Homo sapiens: one gene and its partners. The protein of the gene in region 2 purifies or fractionates together with the protein of the main gene of each other region. This does not show direct contact. Each region holds a gene or a part of one and is shown on either strand. Other genes may lie near its edges.

Evidence for each region.
Region 1: the proteins of MFSD11 (region 2) and SLC25A19 purify together in Homo sapiens (affinity purification with mass spectrometry; one large-scale study listed by BioGRID and IntAct). This does not show direct contact.
Region 3: the proteins of MFSD11 (region 2) and CC2D1A purify together in Homo sapiens (affinity purification with mass spectrometry; one large-scale study listed by BioGRID and IntAct). This does not show direct contact.
Region 4: the proteins of MFSD11 (region 2) and NISCH purify together in Homo sapiens (affinity purification with mass spectrometry; one large-scale study listed by BioGRID and IntAct). This does not show direct contact.
Region 5: the proteins of MFSD11 (region 2) and TMEM106B purify together in Homo sapiens (affinity purification with mass spectrometry; one large-scale study listed by BioGRID and IntAct). This does not show direct contact.
Region 6: the proteins of MFSD11 (region 2) and ABCA5 purify together in Homo sapiens (affinity purification with mass spectrometry; one large-scale study listed by BioGRID and IntAct). This does not show direct contact.
Region 7: the proteins of MFSD11 (region 2) and SMAP2 purify together in Homo sapiens (affinity purification with mass spectrometry; one large-scale study listed by BioGRID and IntAct). This does not show direct contact.

What each region holds. Positions count from the first base shown.
Region 1 is NC_000017.11:75,279,434-75,282,933, reverse strand, and holds part of SLC25A19 (mitochondrial thiamine pyrophosphate carrier), read left to right. Parts: intron 1-3,500. UniProt on the Homo sapiens protein: Mitochondrial transporter mediating uptake of thiamine diphosphate into mitochondria. It is not clear if the antiporter activity is affected by the membrane potential or by the proton electrochemical gradient.
Region 2 is NC_000017.11:76,769,119-76,772,618, forward strand, and holds part of MFSD11 (UNC93-like protein MFSD11), read left to right. Parts: intron 1-627; coding exon 628-753; intron 754-3,500.
Region 3 is NC_000019.10:13,909,201-13,912,700, forward strand, and holds part of CC2D1A (coiled-coil and C2 domain-containing protein 1A), read left to right. Parts: intron 1-622; coding exon 623-758; intron 759-3,122; coding exon 3,123-3,238; intron 3,239-3,327; coding exon 3,328-3,393; intron 3,394-3,500. UniProt on the Homo sapiens protein: Transcription factor that binds specifically to the DRE (dual repressor element) and represses HTR1A gene transcription in neuronal cells. The combination of calcium and ATP specifically inactivates the binding with FRE.
Region 4 is NC_000003.12:52,490,086-52,493,568, forward strand, and holds the end of NISCH (nischarin), read left to right. Parts: coding exon 1-146; intron 147-619; coding exon 620-748; intron 749-1,266; coding exon 1,267-1,428; intron 1,429-1,786; coding exon 1,787-2,397; 3' UTR 2,398-2,983; downstream 2,984-3,483. UniProt on the Homo sapiens protein: Acts either as the functional imidazoline-1 receptor (I1R) candidate or as a membrane-associated mediator of the I1R signaling.
Region 5 is NC_000007.14:12,217,794-12,221,293, forward strand, and holds part of TMEM106B (transmembrane protein 106B), read left to right. Parts: intron 1-664; coding exon 665-728; intron 729-3,500. UniProt on the Homo sapiens protein: In neurons, involved in the transport of late endosomes/lysosomes. May be involved in dendrite morphogenesis and maintenance by regulating lysosomal trafficking.
Region 6 is NC_000017.11:69,317,134-69,320,633, reverse strand, and holds part of ABCA5 (cholesterol transporter ABCA5), read left to right. Parts: intron 1-3,500. UniProt on the Homo sapiens protein: Cholesterol efflux transporter in macrophages that is responsible for APOAI/high-density lipoproteins (HDL) formation at the plasma membrane under high cholesterol levels and participates in reverse cholesterol transport.
Region 7 is NC_000001.11:40,380,227-40,383,726, reverse strand, and holds part of SMAP2 (stromal membrane-associated protein 2), read right to left. Parts: exon of another isoform or gene 1,103-3,500; intron 1-1,102.

The DNA of each region.
Region 1 (3,500 bases), 1.5 Mb from region 2:
TTCTTTTATTTGATAAGCATGTTTTTTTTAAATATATGATTTTTATTTTTATTTTTATTTTTAGTTATTTATTTATTTTTTTTGAGACAGAGTCTCACTCTGTCGCCCGGGCTGGAGTGCAGTGGCACAGTCTCGGCTACTGCAAGCTCCGCCTCCTGGGTTCACGCCATTCTCCCTCCTCAGCCTCCCGAGTAGCTGGGACTACAGGTGCCCGCCACCACGCCCAGCTAATTTTTTGTATTTTTAGTAGAGACAGGGTTTCACCAGTCACAGGATGGTCTCGATCTCCTGACCTCGTGATCCGCCTGCCTCGGCCTCCCAAAGTACTGGGATTACAGGCGTGAGCCACCGTGCCCGACCTATTTTTATTTTTATTTTTTTCAAGAGACGGAGTCTCGCTCTTATTGCCCAGGCTGGAATGCAATGGCCAGATCTCGGCTCACTGCAACCTCTGCCTCCTGATTTCAAGCAGTTCTCCTGCCTCCGCCTCCCAGTAGCTGGGATTACAGGCGCCTGCCATCATGCCCAGCTATTTTTTGTACTTTTAGTAGAGACAGAGTTTCGCCATGTTAGCAGGCTGGTCTTGAACTCCTGATCTCAGGTGATCCACCCGCCTCGGCCTCCCAAAGTGCTAGGATTACAGGCGTGAGCCACCGCACCTGGCCTATATATATATTTTTTGAGACAGTGTCTTGTTTTGTTGCCTAGGCTGCAGTGCAGTGGCATGATCACTGCTCACTGAAGCCTCGACCTCCTGGGATCAAGTGATCCTTCTGCCTCAGCCTCCCCGGTAGCTGAGACTACACCTGGCTGAGTTTTGTATTTTTTTAGAGACGGGGTTTCGTCATGTTGCCCAGTCTGGTCTTGAACTCTTGAGCTCAAGCCGTCTGCCCGCCTCGGCCTCCCAAAATGCTGGGATTACAGGCATGAGCCACCGCACTCGGCAGAGGTTGAGTTCTTGTCCTTGCAGAAAGCAAAGCTGGGAGAGGTTCGGGTTTTCAGTTTGTCTGGCAGTCAGTTTGTAAAACCCATGACTGTGGGCAGCACTGTGCGGGGTGCTCTATGTCCCTGCCTCAAAGGAGCTCACAGCCTCCCTGGAAGACAGAACCTACTGCTATGAAACAGAACAAATAATTACCCAGCAGTGGGCTGGATCAAGGACTGCCCACTTGAGAATTTATTGCTGGATTATTATGAGAGCGTCTTTGTTTTTTTGTTTGTTTGGTTGGTTGGTTTTTTGAGACAGTCTCACTTTGTTGCTCAGGCTAGAGTGCAGTGGCGCAATCTCAGCTCACTGTAACCTCTGCCTCCTGGGTTCAAGCGATTCTCCTGTCTCAGCCTCCTGAGTAGCTGGGATTACAGGCACGTGATGCCATGTCCGGCTAATTTTTATATTTTTCGTAGAGACAGGGTTTCACCATGTCGGCCAGGCTGGTCTCAAACTCTTGACTTCAGGTGATCCCCTGGCCTCTGTCTCCCAAAGTGCTGGGATTCCAGGCATGAGCCACCACGCCCGGCCAATTGCGAGTGTCTTTGGTTTCCACAAAGAATGGGCTGGTGGAAATGGGATAGACTCGAGGAAGAATTTACTGAGTGAAAACAAGGGATTAAATCCTGAAATAGACCTCCCCACCATGATCTCTGTTTCCTGGACATATTTAAGAATAGCATCATATGTATGTGTGTCTGTGTGTTCTCAACCAAGAAAGAATAATTTTATTGTTATTATTTATATATATTTTTTGAGACAGGGTCTTGATCTGTCACCCAGGCTGGAGTACAATGGCTGCAATAGCTTGCTGCAGCTTCGAACTCCTGGGCTCAAGCAATCTTCCTGCCTCAACCTCTCAAGTAGCTAAGACCACAGGTGTGTGCCATCACACCTGACTAATTTTTTATTTTTTTATTTTTTGTAGGGGCAGGGTCTCATTATGTTGCTCAGGCTCAGGCTGGTCTTGAACTCCTGGTTTTTTTTTTTTTTTTTGGTTGTTGTTTGTTTGTTTTTGAGACGGAGTATGGCTCTGTCGCCCAGTCTGGAGGCACAATCTCAGCTCACTGTGACCGCCTCCCAGATTCAAGTGATTCTCATGCCTCAGCCTCCCAAGCAGCTGGGACTACAGGTCCGCTACCATGCCCAGCTAATTTTTTTTTCAGATGAAGTCTCACTCTGTCGCTGAGGCTGCAAGCTCCACCCCCAGTTTTAAGTGATTCTCCCGCCTCAGCCTCCCAAGTAGTTGGGATTACAGGCGCCCACCACCGCGCCTGGCTAATTTTTGTATTTTTAGTAGAGACGGGGTTTTGCCATGTTGGCCAGGCTGGTCTTGAACTCCTGACCTTGTGATCCACCCATCTCTGCCTCCCAAAGTGCTAAGATTACAGGCGTGAGCCACCGCGCCTGGCCATGCCTGGCTAATTTTTATATTTTTAGTAGAGATGGGATTTTGACATGTTGGCCAGGCTGGTCTGGAACTGCTGGCCTCAAGTGATCCGCCCACCTGAGCCTCCCAAAGTGCTGGGATTACAGGCATGAGTCACCATGCCTGGGCTTTTTTTCTTTATTTTTAAGGCAGAGTCTCACTCTGTCATCCAGGCTGAAGTATAGGGGTATGATTACAGCTCACTGCAGCCTCCACCTCCTGGGGTCAAGCAATCCTCCCACCTCAGCCTCCCAAGTAGCTGGGACCATAGGCACTTGGTACCACACCTGGCTAATTTTTGTATTTTTTGTAGAGATGGAGTTTCATTCACCATGTTGCCCAGGCTGTTCTCGAACTCCTAGGCTCAAGTGATCCTCCTGCCTTGGCTTCCCAAAGTGCTGTGATTACAAGGCTGAGCCACCAGACCTGGCTTATAAACAATAATTTTTCCACTGTCTCAACTCTGCTTTAGGATACTGTTAGTGGGAAAGGAAGGATAATTTGTTTAAGAGTTTGATGTGGGCAACATGGCTCTCTACAAAATACAAAAAAATTAGCCAGGCATGGTGGTGTGCACCTGTAGTCCCAGCTACTTGGAAGATTGAGTTGAGAGGATTGCTTGAGCCTGGAGAGTGAGCCATGATTGCACCATTGCACTCCAGCCCAAACAACAAAGTGAGATATCCTGTCTCAAAAAAAACAAAGAATTGGGCTGGGCGCGATGGCTCTCGCCTGTAATCCCAGCACTTTGGGAGGCCAAGGCGGGCGGATCACAAGGTCAGGAGATCGAGATCATCCTGGCCAACATGATGAAACCCCGTCTCTACTAAAAATACAAAAATTAGTTGGGCGTGGTGTCAGGTGCCTATAATCACAGCTACTCGGGGGTCTGAGGCAGGACAATCGCTTGAACCTGGGAGGTGGGGGCTGCAGTGAGCCAAGATTGTGCCTAGGCAACTCCAGCCTAGGCAACATAGCAAGACTTCGTCTCAAAAAAAAAAAAAAAAAAAGATAATAGCATATTACCTCTAGCTTCAACTATTGACATGTTGGATTTTAGATTCTAGAATGATCAGAGAATAT
Region 2 (3,500 bases):
ATAGGTTTTAACATAAGGATATCTGTTCATTTGAGTTGTATACTTTTACCTGAAATATATGGCAGATGCCGTCTTGTGGTATCTTAATTTTAGCTGCTATAACAAATTTCCATAGACTGTGTGGCTTAAACAACAGACACTTATTTCTCACAGTTCTGGAGGCTGGGAAGTCTGAGAGCAGGATGCCACCATGCGCAGCTTGTGGTGTGGGCTGTTCCTGGTTGTAGACAGCTGCCTTCTTGCTGTGTCCTCCCATGGCAGAGAGCAGACAGGAAGCAAGCTTTTTGTTGTCTCTATTTATAAGGGCACTAATCACATCGAGAGGGCTCCACCCTCATGGCCTAATTGCCTCCAAAAGGCCCCATCTCCAAATACCATCATGTTTTGGGGAATTTGAGTTTCAATATGTGAATCTGGGGAGGACACAAACATTTAGTCCATAGCATGAAGCTAATTCCATTTCATCAGTTACATCACATTATGCTCTGCTTGGGGATTAATATTTCAGTCTCTGTGAGTTTTATGTGTTTTACTACGCAAGTATTCTTTCGTCAGATACTACTAGATGGGAAGATAAACAAAAATGTGAATATATAAATGACATCTGTTTTTTTTCTTTAACTAAAGGTCTGGAATTAACTTTCTTCTCTGGTGTATATGGAACCTGTATTGGTGCTACAAATAAATTTGGAGCAGAAGAGAAAAGCCTTATTGGACTTTCTGGCATTTTCATCGGCATTGGAGAAATTTTAGGTTGGTTTTAAAAAAAAGCGTTTGCATTAAAAATATCAGTTTATTATAGGTAAAATAGAAATTTTAAGTGTGCTTCACCTTTGTCCTTGAATTTCTGTTTTTTCTACTTATTTTTACCCAAACGTGTGTTTTTATTTTTCTATTATTGCTATTCTTTTTCTTTTTTTTTTTTTTTTTCCAGACAGAGTCTCGCTCTGTCGCCGAGGCTAGAGTTGGAGTGCAGTGGTGCGATCTCAGCTCACTGCAAGCTCCGCCTCCCGGGTTCACGCCATTCTTCTGCCTCAGCCTCCCGAGTAGCTGGGACTACAGGCGCCCGCCACTATGCCCGGCTAATTTTTTTGTATTTTTAGTAGAGACGGGGTTTCACCGCATTAGCCAGGATGGTCTCGATCTCCTGACCTCATGATCCGCCCACCTCGGCCTCCCAAAGTGCTGGGATTACAGGTGTGAGCCACCATGCCCGGCCTATTATTGCTATTCTAATATAACTAAATTATAAAACATTTGCAAAATAATTCACAGATGGAAACCCTGTGTAAGAAAACATACAATGTCTCCCGACTTTTCCTCCTAAAATATTTAGAAAGTCTTGGAATTCCTGACTCTGGTTCTCTGATTCCCTGTCACCAACTGGGTGTCCAACAGCTCAATCCTGTTCTAACACTTAACTCTCCAAAGTTAGTGTCAGATTCCACAGGTTTAAGGGTTCAGTCCTACAGACAGACAGTCTGGGTCCATAGGCCTCTCAGGCACACCTCTCTGACTTGGGTACAAATTTGGAGGTTCCCATAGCCCTCTTCCCCCTTCATGTTTGATAATTTGCTAGAGCAACTCACAGAACTCAGGAAAATGCTCTCCTGACTATTAGAGTTTATTATAAAGGATACAGATGAGCAGCCTGATGAGGAGGTGCAAAGGGTGGGGTCTGAAAGGGTCCCTAAGTGCAGGAGCCTCTGTCTCCATGGATTTTGGGCTCACCACTCCAGAAGCTCCTCCAACCCTGTTTAGGGGGATTTATGGAGATCCTGTTACATAGGCATGCTTGATTAAATCATTGGCCACATGGCCGGGTGCAGTGGCTCATTCACTTTGGGAGGCCGAGGTGGGAGGATCACTTGAGCCCAGGAGTTCGAGATCAGCCTGGACAACATAAGGAGACCCTGTCTCTAACAACAACAAAAAAACAATCATTGGCCATTGGTGATTGATTTAATCTCCAGCCTTCCCTCCCTGAAGTGGGAGTGAAAGGGGCCTGGAAGTTCTAGCCCTCAGGGCTTGGTCTTTCTGGGAACCAGCCTCATCCTGAAGCTCTATCCTAGGCCAACCCCTCTCTCCCCAAGGGTTGCCCCCTTAGCGTAAACTTCAGTATGGTTGAAAGTGGCTCTTTCTGAATAACTAATGTCCCTCGTATCACTGAGGAAATTCCAGGCCTTTTAGGATTTCTGTGCCAAGAACTAGCAGCAAAGACCAAATATGTATTTTTATTATGCTCCACGAGTTATTCTTTGTTCAACAAAGATTTGTTCAGCACTTGCAGTATATTGAATATTGTGTTAGATATGAGGAACTTCAACAAAGGTTTATTGTAATCTGTCATGTCAACAAAATAGACAAAAATACCTGCCCATATAGAGCTTATATTCTTGAGGAAGAATACAGACAATAAAAACAGAAATCTTTGTATGTCAGGCAGTGGTAAGCACCATGGGTAAAGCGGACTTTGGAGGGTTTGTTTGTTTTTGCTTTTTGGCCCCTGCCTTATTGCCAACACCTGGAGCAGGACAAGGTCTATATTGGGCATCCAATAAATGAGTTAAATGTGTTGAATGAATAATGAGAACATGGTTTCAGCAGAACTTAGTAACCAGTTGCGTGGTGGTGTGAGGAGAGATGTCTAGAATGATGACCAGGTTGATCAGAGTAACCTGGGCAGAGAGAATGCTGTAGGAGATGGGGTTTGAGGAAATCTGCTGAATGGGATTTTGAACACCTCTAAGTACCAGAGAGGCACCCAAGTAGAGAAGTGTCCAGTGGGAAATGCAGGCTGATGCTCAGGAGGGACTCGTGGGCTGGAGGTTGATGTTGGGAGTTATGGGTATGTAAATGGCGGGCGAAGCTTAGCCATGGTGAGTCAGTGCAGGGTTGTCTTCTCTGGTAAGTGCTTGTTTAGTGTCTGCCTGTAGACTACCTGGGAAGAAACTCACTTTCTGTAGGCAACCTGCTTTTTTGAAAAAAATAATTTCAAATTGATAAGAAATTGCGAAAATAGGCCAGGCACAGTGCTCACGCCTATAATTCTAGCACTTTGGGGAGCTGAGGTGGGCAGATCGCTTGAGTTCAGGAGTTTGAGACCAGCCTGGGCAACATGGCAAAACCCCATCTCTACAAAAAAAGTACAAAAAAATTAGCCAGGTGTAGTGGCGTATGCCTGTCGTCCCAGCTACTTGGGAGGCTGAAGTGGGAGGTTGCAGTGAATCCAGATCACACCACTGCACTCCAGCCTGGGCCACAGAGCAAGATTCTGTCTCAAAAAAACCAAAAAACCAAAACAAAAAAAGAAATTGCAAAAATAAAAATAGTACAATGAACATCTGAATATCCTTTAACAGGATTCATCTATTGTTAACGCTCTACCTTAGTAACTTTTTTTTTTTTTTTTTTTTAAGGACAGAGTCTTGCTCTGTTGCCCAGGCTGGGGTGCAGTGGCTCGATCTTGGCTCACTGCAACCTTCGCTGCTGGGATTCAA
Region 3 (3,500 bases), on a different chromosome or scaffold from region 2:
TCTCTGCTAAAAATACAAAAAAAAAATTAGCCGGGCGTGGTGGCGGGCGCCTGTAGTCCCAGCTACTCGGGATGTTGAGGCAGGAGAATGGCATGAACCCCGGAGGCGGAGGTTGCAGTGAGCTGAGACTGCACCACTGCACTCCAGCCTGGGTGACAGAGCGAGACTCTGTGTCAAAAAAAAACAAAAAACAAAAAACTTTTTTTTTTTTTGTAGAGTTGGGGGTCTCACTGTATTGCCCAGGCTGGTCTGGAACTCCCAGACACAAGCCATCCTCTTGCCTTGGCCTCCCAAAGTGCTGGGATGACAGGCGTGAGCCACTGCGCCCAGCCAGGGGCCTGCTTTTCCCACTGAACTTGGCCCAGCAGCACATCATAAGTGTGGATTCAGATCAGAGAGCTGGGTCTCTTGCCCTTTGCCCCAGGTTGAACTGTGCCAGAGGGCCTGGCCTATCTTGGAACACCTGTTCTGGGCTTGTTCCAGCCTCCTGGCACTCCCCAGGGAAATGGCTTTCCCTGGGAGACCTTGTTTCCTTCCTCCCAAGGGGACTCTCTGGCCATCATGGCTGCCTCTAGCCATGTGGTGAACCAAAGGTCTGACTGAACCCTTGCTGTTCCCCTAGCTGGGCCTGCTGGTTGACCTCTCCCCAGATGGCCTGATGATCCCTGAGGACGGGGCTAACGATGAAGAACTGGAGGCTGAGTTCTTGGCTTTGGTCGGGGGCCAGCCCCCAGCCCTGGAGAAGCTCAAAGGCAAAGGTGAGATGGTTAACACACCCTCAGAACATTTTCTGATCTCCTGCAAGTGGTTCGGGCGCAGAACTGGGGGCACTGGGTAGGTAGGGGAAAGAAGACAGAGAAGACCCCTGTTCTCCTGGAGCCAATGATCTGGGTAAGAGAGTCAAGATCGACTCTGAGGCCGGGCACGGTGGCTCACGCCTGTAATCCCAGCACTTTGGGAGGCCGAGGCAGGCAGATCATGAGGTCAGGAGATTGAGACCATCCCGGCTAACACGGTGAAACTCTGTCTCTACTAAAAATACAAAAAAAAAAAAAAAATTAGCCGGGCGTGGTGGCGGGCGCCTGTAGTCCCAGCTACTCAGGAGGCTGAGGCAGAAGAATGGCGTGAACCAGGGAGGCGGAGCTTGCAGTGAGCCGAGATCGCACCACTGCGCTACAGCCTGGGCGACAGAGCAAGACTCCGTCTCAAAAAAAAAAAAAAAAAAAAAAAGATCAAGTCTGGACCGAGACTGAGAGTTGGAATCCGAGCTCTGCCACTTACTGGTTATGTGACTTGATGAGTCACATCATGTGCTTTGGCCTCAGTTTCACCATCTGTAAAACTGGAATAATAACCATGTTATAGGAGTTAATCTGGAGTCCATAAGTATTTCACCCAGGGCCCCCTCACACACAATAAGCTCATGTCAGCCAGGCACATTGGCTCATGCATGTAATCCCAGCACTCTGGGAGGCCAAGGTGGACAGATCACTTGGGGCCAGGAGTTCGAGACCAGCCTGGCCAACATGGTGAAACCCTGTCTTTACTAAAAATACAAAAATTAGCCAAGCTTGGTGGCGAACACCTGTAATCCCAGCTACTTGGGAGGCTGAGGCATGAGAATCGCTTGAATCCAGGAGGCAGCAGTTGCAGTGGGCAGAGATTGCGCCACTGCACTCCAGCCTGGGTGACAGAGCAAGATCCTGTTTCCAAAAAACAAAAAAGAGAGAAGCTTCATTCAGGCATGAACTACTGTGCTGTTGGCTGTGAATTCAAAGTTAATGAATGAACGATATCTATTCAGGAAGGTGTCTTCAAACAGAAACACACATAGAGCAAGGTTGTGTATTGATCAGTTGATTAAAATTTTGTGACCAGAGCTGGGTGTGGTGGTGCATGCCTGTAATCCCAGCTACTCGGGAGGCTGAGGCAGGAAGATCACTTGAGGCCAAGAGTTTGAGGCTGCAGTGAGCTCTGATTGGGCCACTGCACTCCAGCCTGGGTGACAGAGCAAGATCCTGTCTCCAAAAAAGGTTATGACTGGAGATTCACAGGAACCTAAGCTTAAATTTCCCCTAGGAGCAACAGTCTTATAGTCATTAATTTAGTCTTCAAAGCAGCTTTATAGAATGTAACATAACTAATAACAAGATATTGGCAATATGCTATTCTAAGAGCTTCATTGACCTTCTCTGCTCCAACCTACCTATGAAGGAGGAACTGTTGTCATCCCCGTGTCACAGAGGGAGAAACTGAGGCTCAGAGAGGTGACATCACTTGCCGAAGTTCTCACAGAGAGAAAGTTGCAGAGCTGGGGTTTTTTTTGTTGTTGTTGTGTGTGTGTGTTTTTTTTTTTTTTTTTGGAGACAAACCCTTGCTCTGTTGCCCAGGCTGCAGTGCAGTGGCGCAATCTCAGCTCACTGCGACCTCTGCCTCCTGGGCTTAAGTGATTCTCCTGCCTCAGCCTCTTTAGCAGCGGGGATTACACGCCACCATGCCCAGCTAATTTTTTTTTTTTTTTTTTTTTTTTTTTGAGACGGAGTCTCGCTCTGTCGCCCAGGCTGGAGTACAGTGGCGCGATCTTGGCTCACCGCAAGCTCCGCCTCCTAGGTTCACGCCATTCCCCTGCCTCAGGCTCCCGAGTAGCTGGGACCACAGGCGCCCGCCAGCATGCCTGGCTAATTTTTTGTATTTGTAGTAGAGACGGGGTTTCACCGTGTTAGCCAGGATGGTCTCGATCTCCTGACCTTGTGATCCACCCGCCTCGGCCTCCCAAAGTGCTGGGGTTACAGGCGTGAGCCACTGCGCCCAGCCTAATTTTTGTATTTTTAGTAGAGACAGGGTTTCACCATGTTGGCCAGGCTGGTCTTGAACGCCTGACTTCAAGTGATCCTTCTGCCTCGGCCTCCCAAAGTGCTGGGATTATAGGCGTGAGTCACTGTGCCCGGTCTGCAGAGCTGGGTTTTGAATTCAGGTAGCCAGGCCCCAGACCTGAGGCTGAATAAGGAAGAGATGAAATGGGGAAGTCAGCGAGAAGTGGGATCACCTAGCGTGTCCAGGATGGGAAATGGGGGCTCTTGGTGTACGACCCTGGTCCACCTGGGGCATCCCCCTACCGCCAGGTCCCTTGCCGATGGAGGCCATTGAGAAGATGGCCAGCCTGTGCATGAGAGACCCGGATGAGGATGAGGAGGAGGGGACGGATGAGGACGACTTGGAGGCTGATGATGACCTGCTGGTGAGCACTGAGGGCGGGGTGGGGGCTCTGATCCGGTTGCCCCCATCCAGCAGGCCCTTATATCCTGCCCTGGCTGTGTGTCCCTGCAGGCGGAGCTAAATGAGGTCCTTGGAGAGGAGCAGAAGGCTTCAGAGACCCCACCTCCTGTGGCCCAGGTACAGTTTGGATGACTCCACTCCCTTGAACCACAACCCAACGGACAGCCCGGGGTTCAAGACCTAGCCTTTTTTATGAGATGGAGTCTTGCTGTGTCACCCAGGCT
Region 4 (3,483 bases), on a different chromosome or scaffold from region 2:
GGAGCTGAGGCACCTCATGTGGTCCTCGGTGGTGTTCTACCAGACCCCAGGGCTGGAGGTGACTGCCTGCGTGCTGCTCTCCACCAAGGCTGTGTACTTTGTGCTCCACGACGGCCTCCGCCGCTACTTCTCAGAGCCACTGCAGGGTAGGCACAGGGCCTGCTGGGGCTCAGGAGCTTGGAGTGTGTGGTTGGGGCAGGCCTGGGGGGTCATTCTCTGGAGCCAGCTGTGTGGCTTCAGGCAGCAGTCAGCGACTTGGCTGCAGTGGGCTGAGAGTTCCTTGTCTGAGGAAGGGAGCTGTCATGAGGGAGGGGTCCATGGCCAGATGTGAACGCAGAATGCACTGAGCCAGGGCCTGGTGACTGCTTGGGAACAGCCAGTGATGAGAAGGGGTTAGGCAGCCTTTGCCCCTGGGGCTGCACAGGAAGCCCTAGCCAGCGACCTGGTGACTCCCCTGAGCTGGAAGAGGCTCCGACTCCAGAGGGCATTGCCTATGGGGCTTTGCACGGGTGGAAGCCAGGCCAGCCAAGAGGACCTGTTCCTGCTGGATGTGCTGCACACCTAGGAACCTTGTGCTTGCCTGCCACCGCCTCCCTCTGTCCCTTTCTCCATCACACAGATTTCTGGCATCAGAAAAACACCGACTACAACAACAGCCCTTTCCACATCTCCCAGTGCTTCGTGCTAAAGCTTAGTGACCTGCAGTCAGTCAATGTGGGGCTTTTCGACCAGCATTTCCGGCTGACGGGTGGGTGACCCTCTGTGCTTTGTCCTATTTCGGGTGAAGGCCAGCATCACCAGTGGGCTTCCACCTTCCGTACGTGGGTGGGTTATCATAGACAGTTATCTCTGTGCTCAAGAGCCACTTCTTAACCGGGGTGGGAGGAAGCAGCTTCAGGAACTGCTGAGAGAGCAGAACTCACGCTCCAGGGCTCAGAGCAGGAGGTAGGGTGTGCGGCAAGCGCTGGCCCGGACAGAAGCAGAGTGGGCCCTGGTCTCGGGCAGGATGTTTCTGACTCACATTTCCTGAGGAGAGAAAGCTAAGCTCTTTGCCTAATGTCTCTGTCTCCCCTTCCAGAAAAATGCCTCAGCTCTTCCGGCCTGAAGGAATGGCCTCCTCCCGGGCCCCATGATTCTTTCCTGTGTGGGCCCTCCTGGCCCTGGCCTCTGGGCTGAGGCTTGCTAGGGACTCGGGGTGGCTCTAAGGGGCAGGGATAGGGCTGGGGAGCGCCGGCCTGTGGCCCTGACCAGCCCCTTCTCGTGCAGGTTCCACCCCGATGCAGGTGGTCACGTGCTTGACGCGGGACAGCTACCTGACGCACTGCTTCCTCCAGCACCTCATGGTCGTGCTGTCCTCTCTGGAACGCACGCCCTCGCCGGAGCCTGTTGACAAGGACTTCTACTCCGAGTTTGGGAACAAGACCACAGGTACCCCTGTCTAGCTCAGGCTGCAGACAGGCTGCCTGGACAGACGTCATGGGCCCCAGGGTGGCTCTCTGTGCCCCAGAACCCTCTCTGCCTCTATGTCTCTCTTTTCTCACTTAGCTGGCCAGGGTTTTATGTGGGGCTTTTCGATGGCAGAGTCTCCACTCCAGCAGTCCCTCAACCATCTGGCAGACACATCTCCAGTGCCTGCTTTGGGCTCCTGGCCTGTGGGCCCCACACTTGGAGCATCCTCTCCTGCCTGTCTCATGCCGGGGTCTCTCGGTTGGCTTGGGGCCCTTGGTGCTCCCAGCCCCACCAGGGGCCGGTTCCAGGCTATAGCCCAGGTGGCATCTCTCTGCAGGGAAGATGGAGAACTACGAGCTGATCCACTCTAGTCGCGTCAAGTTTACCTACCCCAGTGAGGAGGAGATTGGGGACCTGACGTTCACTGTGGCCCAAAAGATGGCTGAGCCAGAGAAGGCCCCAGCCCTCAGCATCCTGCTGTACGTGCAGGCCTTCCAGGTGGGCATGCCACCCCCTGGGTGCTGCAGGGGCCCCCTGCGCCCCAAGACACTCCTGCTCACCAGCTCCGAGATCTTCCTCCTGGATGAGGACTGTGTCCACTACCCACTGCCCGAGTTTGCCAAAGAGCCGCCGCAGAGAGACAGGTACCGGCTGGACGATGGCCGCCGCGTCCGGGACCTGGACCGAGTGCTCATGGGCTACCAGACCTACCCGCAGGCCCTCACCCTCGTCTTCGATGACGTGCAAGGTCATGACCTCATGGGCAGTGTCACCCTGGACCACTTTGGGGAGGTGCCAGGTGGCCCGGCTAGAGCCAGCCAGGGCCGTGAAGTCCAGTGGCAGGTGTTTGTCCCCAGTGCTGAGAGCAGAGAGAAGCTCATCTCGCTGTTGGCTCGCCAGTGGGAGGCCCTGTGTGGCCGTGAGCTGCCTGTCGAGCTCACCGGCTAGCCCAGGCCACAGCCAGCCTGTCGTGTCCAGCCTGACGCCTACTGGGGCAGGGCAGCAGGCTTTTGTGTTCTCTAAAAATGTTTTATCCTCCCTTTGGTACCTTAATTTGACTGTCCTCGCAGAGAATGTGAACATGTGTGTGTGTTGTGTTAATTCTTTCTCATGTTGGGAGTGAGAATGCCGGGCCCCTCAGGGCTGTCGGTGTGCTGTCAGCCTCCCACAGGTGGTACAGCCGTGCACACCAGTGTCGTGTCTGCTGTTGTGGGACCGTTGTTAACACGTGACACTGTGGGTCTGACTTTCTCTTCTACACGTCCTTTCCTGAAGTGTCGAGTCCAGTCCTTTGTTGCTGTTGCTGTTGCTGTTGCTGTTGCTGTTGCTGTTGGCATCTTGCTGCTAATCCTGAGGCTGGTAGCAGAATGCACATTGGAAGCTCCCACCCCATATTGTTCTTCAAAGTGGAGGTCTCCCCTGATCCAGACAAGTGGGAGAGCCCGTGGGGGCAGGGGACCTGGAGCTGCCAGCACCAAGCGTGATTCCTGCTGCCTGTATTCTCTATTCCAATAAAGCAGAGTTTGACACCGTCTGCATCTTCTAAACCAAGGGTCACTGGGATCCCAGCAGGGCTTCCGTCCAGGGCGTGGTCACATGGGGGAGGGAGGGTGCCCTGGAGACAGGAGGGTGAGGGGTTGGGGGAAAGGAAGGAGCAGCCCTCCAGGAGCCAGATGCTTCTTGGAACATGGGAGGCATGACAGGGCCATGGCCTCTCTGGACAGTGCCATGCTGGGCTGTGGCTAAACCATGAGCGCAGGGCAAACAAGAAACTCCTCAGGGCACCCCTGACACACCAGCCGCTGCCCCTCTGCCTGGGTGCGGGGCATGCCACCCTCTTCAGGCTGTCCTGCAGGTCTTATGTGTCAGTCACCCCTGGGCCCAACCCCACCTGTTTCACAACCCCTGTTGAGAGTGGGGGAGGGGCGAGGAGGACAGAGAGATCCCAGAGTCTGAGGTGGCTGGTGGGGGCCGGGGCATCTCACCAAGGTGGCCCTTGAATGGCAGCAGGGGAGGTCTGTGGGGAGGTGGACC
Region 5 (3,500 bases), on a different chromosome or scaffold from region 2:
AATAGTTAATATGATAAGCCAACTTCTAATAAGATTATAAAATTGGCATTTAAAGGTCCATTTATCCTTTAAACTTATGGATATAGCTCAACCCAAGAAAGAAATCACGGATTTTGAAGTGACTTTAACATGGATTGGGGTGAGACCTGAAAGGGCCCTGGAAGGCTCATTATGTAGGGGGCTCTTAAAGCTTGAGACTTCTACTTCAGAGGCCGGTTTTGGTTTTCAAGGGGGACAATGTCAGAAGCTCTGCAGTGATAGAGATGATAGAGGTTTCAGGAAAGGGCGATACCAATATGTTTCTTCTTTTATCATCCAGACAACCAAATCAGAGTCTTAATGGACACCAGTGAAGCTGAAGGAAGGCCTGGTAAATTTAGCTCTTCTGAAAGCTAGGACTTAGATTTTTTTTAGTGGAAGAAAAAGTAAGCCCTCATTTGTTATACTTTTTTTTTTTTTTTTTTAGCTAGACATTTACGTGTGAAAAAACACGCTGTCTTCTCTAGAACTTCTGCTGGATACTTTCTGAAGACTTAGCAATTTACTAAAGGAAAGAGATGAGTGCCAGATGATATTCTGGTCTTTCCAAACCAGATTGTGATGGGGAGCCATTATATTTTTAACTAATCATAGTAATTTCTGAACTTACTTCTTTCACATTTAGGGCAAGAAAACCAACTGGTGGCATTGATTCCATATAGTGATCAGAGATTAAGGCCAAGAAGAACGTAAGTGATTCTAAGAATATGGCAGTGTTTTATGTTTTATTTTTGTTTTTTGTATTTTTTCAAATTATGTATAATAACTAGTTAAAACTATTAAAAGAAAAAATGCTGTCACGTAGTTAAATTATGTCATCATATGCTTTGTATCCTTAAACAGACAAGAAAGGATTTTCTGGTTGGGGTAAGGTCTTGAAAGCAGTATGGTATCTTTATCTTCTCAAATCTATGGAAATAGATCTAGAATAGCAGTACAAACACACACACACATAAAATTTTCATTAAAAATTGGATAATAAGGTGTACTCCACAACCCCAGGATAAAAATTGGTATTTAAACATGGTGACAGCAGGGACCCCAACGGCCTTAGCAGCTGTGTGGAGGTTGTGAAGGAAAGCAAAAAGAGTTACTAAGGATCATATGAGCCCTGATACACAAAGCAAATACTTTGTCCCAAAAGAAGAGGACACCCAGCAAATATTTCCAAGAATAATCTGTAAAAATGACAAGATTTGCATGCTCTAGCTTGGAGAAAGTGCAAAAAGACCACAAGAGACCTGCTAAGTATCTTCGAGATCAGAAGGAACTGGACCATCCTAAATCCTCAGAGACGTTAGGAAATGTGGAAGCAAAAATTATTGCAAAAGGATACAAATACATATCCTCAAGAAAAAAGTTGAGTAGAATCCAATGTTTACAGGACAGGAGTTAGGAAGGAAGGAGAGAACAGATTGACATATTAGGGAGATCATCTCAAAACTGTGGAGATAAATATACATGGAGGCCATATTTTCAAATACTTTGTATATCAACAGAGGATGGAGCCCTTGAACAGTGAAGCTAGCAAAGCAACGCTGGCATATTCCATCACCGCAAATGAAACCTTTTCTTGAAAGTACAAAAGCTCTTTTCATTTAAACATGAGCACCTGGAAAGGATTGCAACAAAGCATTATACAAATATACTTTTTAAGAAGTTGAAGAAAGTAAGCTAAGCAAAATACTGACACTTTAATAAAGGCATGTGAAAAGAGCAGATGAACACTTTAACTTAATACTATAAAAGCTATAACAGGACAGCATAAGGCAGAAATTGAGAAGCTCAGAAATGAGATAACTAAACAATGGGAGTATGTGCAAAGAGAATTTACAGACCTCTGGAAAGAATTAGAAGAAAAACATTTCCACAAAACTGGAAGAACACAAGTACAAATACATTGGAAATACAGTCAGGGAAATAGAACATAAACGGGAGGAATGAAAACATCAACAACAAATTGTGTAAAGGATTTGAGAGAAAATGTCTAAAAGTCACATAAAGAAAACTAAACATGTATGTAATTGGAGCATCTGAAGAAGAAAACCAAAGGAATAGAACTGGACAAATGCAAAACATTAAATCAAGAACACAGGGACCTGCATATTGAAAAGACACCACAATCCTGAAAAAAATCAACCCAGGTTAGTGAAATTCTTGAACTTTAAGAAAACAACAAAACTCCTAAATACCTAGGCAAAAGGATCAATTAATTTATAAATGTTAGAAAATCAGATTGACATGCTGCTTCTTGACTACAGTGCCTCAAACGGATAAGCAATGGTGTGACATATTTAAATCAGGAAAATAAAACAAACCAAGGATTTTATAAACAGTCTGACCTTTTATTACAAAATGTATAGACAGATATGAATATGAAGGAAATTAGGATTAATCCCTTTATAACCTAAAAGTGGGAGAACTTTTTAAACTATGATTTTGAATGCAGAAAAGATAAATTTGACAGATGAACTTTTACAGGATGAAGACAAAACCTTAACTGAAGTCAAAATACAAATAGCAAACTAAGTAGTAAAGTTTACAAATCATATCACAGACAGAGGGCCAATATCCTTACTCTATAAAGAGCTTCAGAATTTGAGAAGAAAAAGGCCAACCTCCAAAGCAAAATAGAAGCTATGAACAGCTAGTTCACAAAAAAGAAATGCAAATGACCTTTAAACATTTGAAAAGATGTCCAATCTTGCTCATAATAGAAATGCAAATTAAAGCTACACTTAGATGCCATTTCTATCACAGTGGCAAAAATCCAAAATGTTGACAACATACTTTGTTGGCAGTAGTGACTGAAAACAAGTATATTCATTCCTTGCTAGTGAATGAAAATTTGGCATTATTTGCCAAATTACATCTGCATTTACTTTTTGGCTCAGAAATCCTACTTTGAAAAATTTATTCTCAGGATAGTTGTCAAATATAGTAAATGGTATTTGCGCAAATTATTTATTGTGCCAATGTTTGCAGAAGCAAACAACTGGAAACAATGTAAATACCAATAATAGAGGACTGATGGAATAAGATACTATGTGTACACAATGGTAAAATGGAAGGAGAACTATATTTTACCACAGTGTGATATTGACAATATGTTTTTCTTTGAAAACACCACACACTCAAACCCACACATATACACACAAAGAGACAAACAATGGGATGATAAACCAAATCTAATACAATTGGTTCACCTCTGAGTTTGGGAAGGAATTTGGAAGAGGGAGTGGATAAGCAAGTAAAGTGTGTGTGTGTGTGTGTGTGTGTCTGTATCTGTGTACATTTTTTTTACATAACTTAAAAGATGAAATCAAAAGTAACTGCCAAAAATTGAGACAAAAGGAAACATTATTCTAACTGTATATGAAGTTGGTGACACTAACAAAACTGAAATAATTATTTTAAGTGACTTGAAAACATTGTGCTGTGACTATAAATGTCGGGAGTTG
Region 6 (3,500 bases), 7.5 Mb from region 2:
ATGTTAAGAATGTTTCATTCTTTTCAATCAAACAGCTAAACCATGTATTTCATACTATGAAGAAAACCAGTGATCAGATGGGCTTAAGAGATTTTTTTTTTGTTTCAATAACTTGAATTGAAGCTCAAGATTATTGAAAGTTAATATTTTCATATGATTAGACTAAAGCTTTTGAGTATAAGAAAAATCAGATTGTTGAGGTCATTCATAATACTGAGTCATTGGTATAATTTGATGACAGAGTTAATACTTTCATCATTTTTTTCTCTCTGTCCTTTTGCAATTCATTCTGTAGGGTTTCTTTGACTCACGCTTCAATTTAGCTCACTAATTCGTCTTTAAATGAAGTTCACCCCATCTTTTAGTGCTTTTTTATTTCTATCAGTTTTTTATTTCATTTCTAAGTTCTGTAATTGCTTTTTTCTTAATTATCTTTCTCTTGTTCCAAGAATATGATATTCTCTATTACTCTTTTAAGGATATTAGTTATACTTTTATACACAATCGTGATCAATGTGTATAATTAGTTGCCATGTACAAGCCACCATTTTCAGCTTTTCATGTATTAATTCTTTTAGTCATTTTAACAACCCAAAGAGGTAGGTACTACTATTGTTGTATTTTACAGATAATAAAACTTAGGCGCAAAAACATTAAATAACTTGCCCAAGGTCTTGAAGTTAGTATGTAGCAGAGGCAGGATTCATGTTTAGTTGGTTTGGCTTCAGAGGTCATACTCTTAACCTATACTACTTTGGGCATTATTAGTTCTTATGTTTGTTAATTTTGGTGCCTTTGTAATATTGGTTAAGATGCTTTTTTGCAAGAAATAGAATCTGATACTGGTTAGCTTAAGTGAAAATGAAAATATATTGGGAAGATAATAGGACATTTCACATACTCCAAGGAAGAAAAATCGAGTTGTGAGCACAGTAGGTGTGGTACATTAGAAGAAAGCTTAGAGTAAGAATGTGTAAACTTTCTTTCTTAAATGTTGCCATTCATGTAATTCAGTTTCCTTGACTTCCATCCAGTCTGTGGGTCTCTTAGTTAATTCTGCCAAGAGAAATTTTAACTGACACAGCTCAAGAGTAGTGGTGGTGGTGGTGATGGTTTGTGTGCGTTGGGATGGTGTTTGGGGAGTTGGTTTAGTTTTGCTTTAAAAAGCTGTGATGAGAGGTGGAGTGGGTGGGCAGGTTTTTTAGACAAGGCCCTTAGAGACTCAACCTTGAGTTCAGGAAGCAGTTCTCAAAAAAACAAAAAATTCTGTGAATCCATCTACTCTATGAGTCTGTTATATAAAAATGAAGAGTTAAGCATCCAACATTCAAAGTGGATTAATAATTTAGTAGCATTCACAAAATCAATGTGTTTTGGCAAGTAACTTGAGAATGTTCATGCTGCATTAGGTTAGTGTTTCTATGTTTGTATTGTAGCAAATAATGCTTGAATGAGTACAGCTTTCTTCCTTCCTTCCCTCCTATTATCAACTCTTTGCTAAATGTGATATAACATAGTTGAGACTGTTAGAAGAATTTATTTATTGACCATTACAGAAGTTTATTTAACAGAGTCTAATATGAAAATATACATGACTTAATTTTTACATCATAGTAAAACAGGCCCTTTTGAGAGGGAGACATGGGTTTTTCTGCTGAACAGCCATTATTTATACTTGTTCCAAGGCTTCTAACATGATGATGCCATTACATCGCATTACCACCATTCCAATATTGTTCTGTTGCCCACTAGTTGCCATCTCCACACATTAATCTATCACAAGATTCATAAAGGGATCAAATCCCCACAATATTCCTTGGACATGTCTGCCACCATTTAATTTTCAATGATAACTTTTTGTCCATCAATTTTTTCAACTCGGGAGTGTAAGCTTTGCTCATGGTGTCTACTCCACAGGTTCACAGATGCCTTGGAATGGAATGCTGGAAGAATTTATTTTAATGTATCTTCTATTCTTGACTGCTTTTGTTTTGCTGTTTTTAATTTACTCATTTAGTATTTTTACAGTATGTCTAATTGTTTAATTGCTTTTTTTTTACTATGTAAGTAATACATAGAAAAAAAGCATGAAGAAAATAAAAGTTGTCTTTAATTCCATTGCTAATTTAAACAGTTCTTTCCAGTCTTCCTTCTGTGCATATAAAGAAGATGCTCATTTAAGCCAAACTTTAATTATATATATTTACTGGAAAAGACAAACTGCCTCTCAAAAATTATGGACCAGGCACGGTGGCTCACTCCTGTAATCCCAGCACTTTGGGAGGCAAAGGCAGATGGATCACCTGAGGTCAGAAGTTTGAGACCAGTCTGACCAACATGGTGAAATCCCATCTCTACTAAAAATACAAAAATTAGCTGAGCATGGTGGCAGGCGCCTGTAATCCCAGTTACTTGGGAGGCTGAGGTTGGAGAATTGCTTGAACCCAGGAGCCGAGACTGTGCCATTGCACTCCAGCCTGGACAAAAGAGTGAGACTCCATCTCAAAAAAAAAAAAAAATTGTGAGTTTTCTTTATTTAGGTGTAGACAGTCTTCCAGCTTGCAACAGATGGTCCTTGTTTTGGAGGAGAGTTATAGCAGTGGCCTCACTAGATAGGTTTATTTAAAACAAGGGCACAGCAATTTCTCTGGAAGGTTTAACAGGATTTTTTTGTTGTTGTTGTTATTTCCCCTGCTATCTTCTCAATACTTCTTAGTATGCAGAGATCCTAGGTTACTGGGTTGAGTGTATTTGAATAGGGGCAGTGGACATTGCAGTTGAGACTCTGACCACTTCTATTTTGAGTTCAGCTGGAATGAAACCTCTGAAGAATCGAGATAGCTCCAATAGAGGTCCACAGGCAGAAAGGATTTCAAGGATCTTCAAAGGGTAAATGTACCCTGGAAGAGGGATACTGGACCTGTGATAGGTACAATGATTTAGATCATTCAATGTTATTTTTTGAAGTAATTTATTAAGGTAAAATTTATTTCCAAGGTAAAACTCCTTACCTTGTAAGCAGTTTCTCCTCATTCTTTACTCTCCCTGGCCTCTGACAATCACCAGTTGGCATTCTGTCCCTACATTTATCTTTTCTGGAAGTTTCCTATAAAGGGAATCATATAACATTTGACATTTTTAGTCTGACTTTCACTTGACATAACGTTTTGTATGTTCATTTTAATTGTAGCATATAGCAGTACTTCATTCCTTTTTTTTTTTTTTTTTTTTTTTGAGACAGAGTCTTGCTCTGATGCCCAGGCTGGAATGCAGTGGTGCAATCTCAGCTCACTGCAACCTCTGCCTCCCAGATTTAAGCAATTCTGCCTCGGCTTCCTGAGTAGCTGGAGTTACAGGAACGTACCACCATGCCCAGCTAATTTTTGTATATTTTTTTTTAGTAGAGACGGGGTTTTGCCATGTTGGCCAAGCTGGTCTCAAACCCCTGACCTCAAGTGATCCACCCGCCTTGGCTTCCCAAAGTGCTGGGAATACAGGCA
Region 7 (3,500 bases), on a different chromosome or scaffold from region 2:
AAACGATAAGTTGCTCCTGGCAGCAGCCAACAGTCAAATACATATTCAATACAGGAGCCAATTTGCCTAGTCATACCCCCTAAGTATATAAACTATGACTGAGTTGTTACATTACTTCCTGGGACTAATAATTGTTTCAGCAACAGTCAAGATCCTTTAGAAGCACGCAATGTTATATCTGCCGGAAAACCCTTCCGTTCTCTTGTCCAAAATAATTCAAATACTATAAGGGGAAAGAAATTACATCTTGGAGAATTCAGTGCCTTTGTGTCTTTGCCTGTTTGCGCTGGGATCCCTCCCTTGCTCCGCTTGATCACAGGGAACTACATCTCCCAGGCTCCCTTTGCCAACTGATTTCAGGATAAGTTCCATCAATGGGAGGCACTGAGGAGGATAAGAGGCAGGAGCAGGGAGCAGCCAGGGTAATACGCTCTCTCACTCGGCCTACTTCCAGCTGCCACCAGACTGCTCCTCTTTCCATGCTTCCGCTCACACCAGACCACTCGGACTTCCAGCCCTTGGTGACACCAGTGCACTATTTTCCTTGCAGGCATAGTAGTTCCCAGGCATTGCTAATCGAATGGGTGCCTCACCAGCCCCTGTTCAGCTTCTTGGCTCTTCTAGCAGCCTTGTAACCTACTCCCTATTTTAAATTCCCTCTGCTTATAAGACCAACAGTGGCTTCTGTTCCTCTGACTGGTCCTTGACTGACATAGGGCCTTCCAAACATATTTTAAAACTTATTTTTCAGAAAATTAATAGCTTTCCTAAGAATTAAAACAATTATTCAGATAACCTAGAAAAGGTCTCTTCTAATATGAAACAAAACATTTACAGATGATAAAATCAATTCATGCATTCAAACAAATATTTACTGAGAGCCTGGTCTGTGCCAAGCACTGTTCTAGGTGCTGGGAACACTACAGTGAACAAAACAGGCATAGGCCCCTGCCCCCTAGCTTACATTCTAGGGATGTGTAAAGTGTGGCACATTATGATTTTAAAAATTAGCCAATATAGGACTGTTGCTTTAACAATAGAGGAATTTGGTAAAAGTGGATTAACTTTAAGGTGTTCTACTCTACAAAGACTTGGTTCTTACCTTTTCAATGTGGTATGAACTGTCACATTCCAGGGGCCAATACAGAACTTCTTCAAAGCTAGTATCTAGTTAAACTGGCCACTTGATCAAACAGGAGTACAACTGTGGTAAGGATTTAAGCAGACACAATAACAAAAGGTAGGCACTGTATGCTTACAGTGTAAAGCATATGCATGTTTTATGCAGAATCTTGCTTGGCATCATTTTTACAGGAAATACCATTTGGAGGAACTGAGTCTGACTCAATTTAATAAGTCACTTTATCCCTTCACTGTAGCACAGGTAGAGTCCATCAACATAACATACAAAGCCAGTGGCAGTGTACATAACAAGTAGAATGTCGCAGTCACCGATTGCATGACACGATTTCCAAGATGGAATTTTCAGGCAGAAGAACAGAAACAGACAATGACTCATGTGATGAACAGTTATATAGACAACTGTGCCCAAGAAAGCTGCCACCTACATACCATAATGACATCAGATGAAAAATGCAGAAAAAAGGTAGTTTTCCAATTTATCTAGAAAAAAAAGATTTGCTGAAAAGTATATATACTGAGAGATGAGACTGCAGCTACCTGTTTATGCATCCTAAGCACTGAGCAACCAGGAGCACACATCAGGTATTCCAAATATGACCTGCTTGAGGCTAAGAGCATGTTCAGCCTCAAAAATCAACATCAAGAGCTCCAGAAATAACATAGTATCTACTGCTGGCACTTCACTAGACTTATGCTAAAATAATTTAATGTACCCACAAAGGTACATTTCAATGGAGAATTTAATCGGCACCATGCTCAGACCTTTCTTACTATTCAGCGATCAGGAAGCGTTTCATGCCTGCAATATTTATAACCCCATGTGAATAGCAGGTGGACCTACAATACTATGGGCTTCTTACACAACAGGAAGTCTAAAGCACAGTGCATATTCAAAATCTCAATGCCACGAAGCAAGTCAACCACAGAGCTCAGGTTTTAACCTTACAGTATCCTGACTACCTGTCAAACTCTACTCCTCATCACTCCTCAACATGCAGTCAAAATATACTAAAGAATCCCCACACGCACACACACACACACAAAACAGTGCACCTTCGAGGCTTTGCACATTCTGTTCCCTCTTCCTAGAATACAAAGTTCCCTAAATTAGCTTGGCAAAGTCATACTTATCCTTTAAGACACAGCCTACTTTTCTCTTTGAAGCCATGACTTCCCGAGGAAGACTTCTTTGCCTTCTTCAATGCTTTCATTTCTCCCTGTATACCATGCCACAATAATTTCTGTATTGCATCATTTATATTTGTACACATCTGCTTCCCCATTAGACTGTAAAATCCTTGAGACTAAAGACTCTTTCTTTTAATCTATATGTCCCGGTACAATGTCTGAGAAAAAGTAGGTAGTAAGTGCTTAAGAAACATTTTCTGAATGACTATATGTAGTGGGGGATCTCAGGCTTGCGAAGTTCCCCTAAAAGATATACATTTTCTATTCTTCATCTCACTGGCACCAAATGATATTTAAAGGGCAAGGAGAACAAATAGGAAAGTATCTCTCAGGGAACAGGTTTAATATGTTGACATTAAAAGACAATCTAATGGGGATTTTGATAAATTACTTTCAGTAAAACTATCAATCTAACCATGACTGTCAGAGTTATAGTGCACTAGCTATAAAAAACCAGAAATATATGTGATCTTGGCTAGAGAAAGGCGTTTAACAACTAGAAATGGAAGCAGAACTCCTTCTGTTGTTTCACGCCATTGAATTTTTTACTTTTTAAAAGGTACCACAGGCTGGGTGCGGCGGCTCACACCTATAATCCCAGCACTTTGGGAGGCTAAGGTGGGCGATCACCTGAGGTCAGGAGTTCGAGACCAGCCTGGCCAACATGATGAAACCCCTCTCTACTAAAAATACAAAATATTAGCCAGGTGTGGTGGCAGGCGTCTCTAATCCCAGCCACTCGGGAGGCTGAGGCAGGAGAATGGCTTGAACCCGGGAAGTGGAGGTTGCAGTGAGCCAAGACCACACCACTGCACTCCAGCCTGGGCAACAGAGCGAGACTCCATCTCAAAAGAGAAAAAAAAAAAGTGCCACAGATACAGCTAAAATAATTTTAAATTGATAGGAAAGTTCATTTCTAAGGAATATTTAACAAGCAATGACTTGGCTATCAACAGAAAACAAATGTAAAGCAAAGCTAAAGATTAATGTACATGAGTTAAAACTTAAGACAACTATGAGAAAATTTCTACACAAAGAAATTCCCTGGTCTAATCTTTCATACAAGTTTGAAATCGGGAAACATCCAGAGACCATCCTCAAGGGTACCATAAAGCACATTTGCAAAAATGCCAGAACTCCATATATAGGAAATGGTTTTGGCTTAAAGA